Linked DNA regions of Homo sapiens: region 1 is linked to region 2. The links come from fine-mapping of genetic effects on gene expression. A gene starts in region 2. The other region holds a variant in brackets. All regions are shown on one strand. Distances are between the middles of the regions.

What was found. PIP is the estimated chance that this variant, and not a neighbour inherited with it, causes the effect.
Region 1: its variant is fine-mapped to the expression of BHLHE41 in lung (TOPMed, PIP above 0.99).

The regions. Positions count from the first base shown.
Region 1 is chr12:26,099,158-26,102,077 of GRCh38, forward strand. No RefSeq gene overlaps it. Among named protein-coding and RNA genes, the nearest start is that of BHLHE41, 24 kb to the right of the region's middle. The variant C/T (reference allele first, on the strand shown) is at 1,616.
Region 2 is chr12:26,123,508-26,126,427 of GRCh38, forward strand. It overlaps BHLHE41 (basic helix-loop-helix family member e41), which reads right to left and starts at 1,530. Exons shown (of 5, transcript NM_030762.3): 1 at 1,211-1,530; 2 at 1,012-1,075; 3 at 565-672; 4 at 123-234. The coding sequence starts at 1,272. It also overlaps a transcript of SSPN not described here.

The DNA.
Region 1 (2,920 bases), 24 kb before region 2:
CATAAATGTATAAAATTATCATTTGTCAATTAAAATAATGTTAATTTTTAAAAATATGCGTGAGAGAGCCAGGGATGTTAAACATATTACAGAGCATAGGTCAACCCTTGACAATGAAAAATTATTGTCCTATCTCTCACAATGTTTAATGCCCTATCTGTTTTACATATAAGCATAAATTGTTTTTAGCATGGTTTTTTTTCCTCTCTTTTTGTTTTTAGAGACAAGATCTCATGCCCAGGCTGGAGTGCAGTGGCAAGATCATGGCACACTGCAGCCTTGATCTCCTGGGCTTAAGCAATCTCCCACCTCAGCCTCCCAAAGTGCTGGAATTACAGATGCAGGCCACCATTCACAGCCCTAGCATCATTTTAATAAAATTGAGTGTTCCAAGAATACAACTACCAGTTGAGTTGAGGAGAGATTATGCTTTATTTAACTCAGAACTTTACCCAGGTTTGTTAACCATCTTTGAAGTTCATTTCACAGGAGCATCTTAACTTCTGGAACTGAGTCACCAATAGAATAAACTGATAACAATCTGTGTTTGTAGCTCTTGATTCAAGGTGGTTCTAAGTATACATTTAAATATACTTTTTATTCTTTATTCAAAATGTCAAATATGAAAAGAAGAGTCAACTTGAAGGTAATATATTGGCATCAATATATTAACAGTATAAGCACCTGACTACTTCATTACATTTTGTAGCATAGCTACCATCTGTGCCTTTCCATACTTAAATATATATATATTTATATATTATTATATATAATTATATATATAATTTCTTTTATTTCTCCTTTATATCAAAGTTAAGGCATTACATTATTTTAATAATATTATTGATATATGATAGTTATATTTTTTAAAATTAATGTGCATTACAGACTATATTTTCTATAAATTTCATTTTAAGCTAGTAAAGGAGCATAAGAAAATATTTGTTATAAAAGGGGACCTTTAGTTCTCATAAGCTTGAGAACCAAGATTCTAAGGGTCTCTCTTTCATTTGTGAATTCCTCACTATTCCTCCCTCTTTCCTATCCATCCTACCACTTAAAAGAAGGAAATGGTCAGTAATAAGAAATTATTAGTAGCTAGGCCCATGAAGTAAGTTTTATTCTGATTAATAATGTTCTTTAAAAGACAGTTGTAAGCTGAGCATTCCTATGTGATGTGGATATAAATATAGGATTGTCAAAAGTTCATATTAACTCATTCATTATTTCATTTGTTAAGTATTACTATGTACCTGTGAGGTGTAAGGCATTTTGCTATTAAATTGATCGTGTCTGAAAAGCACCAAAATCATTGCTACACTGAAGAAAATCTCTCTCTGGGGGAACAAATGGATATTACATTAGGCAACAAAACAATTGACTGAGTGAAATGTTCAACTAGATATTTTGGAAGCATCTAATTTGTAACTCGTATTGGTCCCGAAAGCCAATCAGAGTAGATATGAAAGGGAAAAAATGCTAAAACTTTACAAAACAATTTTCATATTGGGGGAAAATACAATAAAGGAAATGGTGAGACTCTTTCTGACCCAAATATATATTTTTTAGAATCAAGATTACATCACTGTTAAATTAGTATAGCTGTAAAAGGTCT[C/T]TTGCATAACTATTTGCAATGAAATTCTTCATAGTAAATTTAGTAACAGAAAGAAACGGTCTTCTGCCATTATGAGAAACAAATTAATGTTATTTCCCCTGTCCCCAGCTTTTGAAATAACAGTAGGCAAAATAGCCTAGTGAAGGGTGGCTGTATGACTAGGAGCATGTTGCTTAACCTCTGAGCACATAGGTTTCTTTATATGATAACATTTACCTCATAAATTAAATGAATTAGCAGTTGTTATATGCTTAAAACACTGCTCAGCATATTAGAAACACAAAGCAAATAATAGCCATGATCATATCTCTTTTCCATATCAGAAGCGTGAAAACTGTTCATGGAAACAATTGCCTAATGTTGGAACGGCGGGCTTGACTTGACCAGACAGTCATATGCTTTGCTCAGTGCTTTTGTGCTCCAAATGCATGAGATACTAACCGGTCCTAGTGCAATTAAGAGTGTTTGACAGCCGGGCAATCCTAGCATGTTCCTAACTAAGCGATAATTGAAGATCTGTGTAGATTTTAGGTACAGGTTGTTACCCAGCAACAGATTGAAGTTCCGGAAGAAATTCTGAATTATCTCATTAATAAAGCAACTTCCTGATAGACAGCTATTGACTCTGACCACAGCGAACCCAAGAACTCATGATCCTCTAACCCAGAAAAAAAATATGCAGGTGAGCACTGATGAGGTGGCAAGATGCCAAAAAAACTGGTTTTACAACCTATCGGGTAAGTGAGCAAGTGGTGGCTAAAGGTTGGTCACATTATCTGGAAAGAGCAGGAAGATCAGGTCGACTGTGTTTTGCAGAGGTTATTAGCATAGCATGGGAATGCAGCTCTGCAGCCAAAGAAAGAACCCTGATGCCACTGGGGCATGCTGACCCATGATGCCAAATGGAAACTGCACCTGTCTGCCTTCCTTCTAGTCTCTCCATAGTGTATTGCATGACCACTGAACTCCCCCAAAAAGACATGCAGGAGGTCTTAGATTATGTCATTTAATGCTTGTAACTGTCCTACAGAGATGCTACTCTCATTAAAATCATCCTCTTTACAGATGACGAAACATAAATTTTGAGAAGTAAGTTGCTTAATGTCACAAAGCTGATGAGTGAGACTCATGAGCGAAGCTGTCTCATTTCTGATTTCATGCTGTCGATGAGATTGCCCTCTAGGAACCAATTACAACTAATGTTTGTTTAGGACTTTAACATTCAACGAGCTCAGAACCCCAGCATGCTGTAAGGTGGACCTTATCTTATCACCATCCCCATTCTATAGATAAGGAAACAGACAA
Region 2 (2,920 bases):
AATGAGAGGGAACCCATGAGCCCACGGAAAGAGATGGGGTGCGGGTGAGGGAGTCCTGACACTGCTCCCCTGTGGGCTGCCCCGCTTCATCAGGGTAGGCTGGCCTCCCTGAACTGACTTACCATTCTGTAAAGCAATTATCTTCTGATGCTGTTGCTCGGTTAAGGCGGTTAAAGCTTTTAAGTGTTTCAAAGTTAATTCCAAGACTACAGCTTTCTCCAGATGTCCCAGAGTCTGCAGTGGTGCAAAAAAGAAACGGGCACTTGGTTACTTAAAAACACACATTTGGCTTAATTGGCTGTCCATTCAGCACAGCAATTTAAGCAAACACTTTGAAAGAAGTACTGTTCTTTTACTTCTTGAGCTTTCCACAAGACAGGTTATAAATGATTTCTTGCCTTCAGCTGGGAGCACCTACTCCAGTTTGCGGGAAACTCTGTACGGTATAGCACAAGTTTTAAGTCAGGAACTTATATTTACATTTATTCTTATATTTTCTGGGAGTCGCACCAGACTATTAACACGCCCTTGGAGAGCAGCAAAGAATGAAAATGTGCATCTTACTGTCAATTTCAGATGTTCAGGCAGTAAATCTTTCAGCTGAGCAATGCATTCATTAATTCGGTCTCTTCTTTTCTTTTCTATTAATCTGTGCGGTAATTTGTAGGTATCCTTAATATATGAGAGTCATGGAAAAGAGAAAACAGTAAGCGAAACATTCACTTATTGGATATTACCCTCGTCTGCCCCCCCCGCCCCCCCACCATAAAACATACTATGTGATAAACTACACCCAAGAAACCTCTTTCCTCTGGACTGTTCTGCAATGCAATTTAAATTCAGGTATGATGTTTAATATCCCCCTGAGAGTACCCAGCAAGCCACTTAAAATTCACAGTTGGGGAAGCTCAGGGGCTGGAATATATTTGCGGGCAGAGCTTCACTGTGAAATCAATGGCTCTAATTAACTACCCATGCAGGTTATGAGGAATATCGGGAACTTACACTTACCTTGGTGTCGTCTCGTTTCATGCTCCTTTTGGGTTTACACATATACAAAGAGGAATAGTCCAGTCTGCAAAACAGAAATCAGCATCAGGCACCCATTCGGGGAGGGGCTCTGCCCTCGCCAGCTCCATACCACTTTCTGGAGAAGAAAAAAATCAAACCAAAGCCTAGACAGATATTCGCAAGGGTGCGTGCACCTTACCCTATAAAATCTCTATGTTCCAGTAACTGTCTCTCTTGCAAATGAGGAATTCCTTCGTCCATGTTCAACTGCTGTTCGTTTCCTCTGTTTCGATTTTTGGGGCTCTGTACAATAATCTGTGGGACGGTAGGCTTGGGAGACCTTGGGGGGATCTGTGCGTCTCCAGTCTCTCTCTCGCTCTCCCTCTTCAGTGCAGTGTTGAAAGTGTGAAGCAGTTGGTCCCCCCCCTCCACCGCGCTCGCACACACACACGCACACACACGCACACTCGCGCCGGCCCCACTGCGCTGGTAGTTTGCTCTCACTCCAGGCAGTGTTTGGCCACAGGGCACGCGCGTCGCCGGCCAGACCAGCACCCAGCTCACGTGCGGAACGTACCATCCGCGGTCCAGCCCGGAGGGGGGCGGGGGAGGAGGGGCCGGGCCGGGCGGGGGCGTCGGGAGAAGGCGGCGAGAGAAGGCGAACGGCAGGAGGGGGCGGGGACACCTGATCAGGGCCACCGGAAAGGAAAAACAACTTCGGCCAAGCTATTCATCTTCCCAAAGGCGATGCAGTCGGCAGGAGGAGGGGGGAGTGGGGGTGCAGGGGTGCGGGGCAGCCTGAGCTTCCTTGGCTCCAAAATGCGACTCCCTGGGTTCGTCCGTTGTTACGGTGCAGGAATGTGAACGTGGCTTTTTGCTTTTCCACCGATTGTGCTGTTGGTTTGAACCATAGAAAGGAAGTGAAAAGAGAATTCGCGGTGGGTAAACTTGAGTCCCAAAGGAAATTTTGGAGACTTGTTTGCTCACTGATCAGTGGCCTGGAGGGACTCCTTGGCGCTGGGTGGAGAGGTTGCCTCGAGAAGAAGCAACTTGCAATCCGCTCCTTGAAGGATTTAAGATACATGAAAACGTTGTCACTGGGTCCGAATGTCGCAATCCAAGTGTCTTTCGGTGACACGGCGTCCCTGGGCCAACTAAACTTCCCCGCAGCAGCCGGAATTGCGGTGCCACTAATCACAGCAGCAGATGACGACGTTTGGGGCCGCGTGTGCTCCTGGAGGAACGCGGCGGGGAGCGAGCCGGGGTTGAGTGGGGGCTGGGAAGGGAGAAGGGGGTGGCACGAGAGGGGGTGGCACGAGAGGGGCTACCACAGAAAAGCTATGCAGCATTTATCACCCGCCCGCTCAACTCTGCCGCGTTCTGAGCCTCCGGTGACGCTACGTGCTTTCCCCATCCCCCCGCCCCCCCGCGCGATAAGAGACGCCCGGAGTGTGCAGAGCCCACGTTTACTACCGCTGGCACCTCCAAAGCCTCCCTCCTTAATCCGGTCTCAAACGGGTACCAGCACAGGGCCAGCAACGTGATCCGACCTGCCGCTGCTGCCACATCACTGCTCGGGGAACCCGTGCGCGCGCGCGCTCGCCCTGCAGCCGCGGCGCTCGGCGCCGGGAATCACAGGCCAGCAAGAGCCGGGTTACCTTTCCCCAGAGCCACCCTGGGAGCATGACTCACTGCTAGTGAGAGTTACCGGGAGGTGCCCGGGGATGCGCACTGCCCACGCCGCCCTGCCAGCCCAGGGGAAGGCATGTCCTGAGGGACTCCCAGGGGTGGGATGGAGGCTATATATATATTTCTCTAGATATACATAAAGACATAGAGAAAAAAACCAAGGTTTTTCCTGCACAGAGAGGGATATTTACATTCTCCCCGGGGTGATCTCTGAAACGTT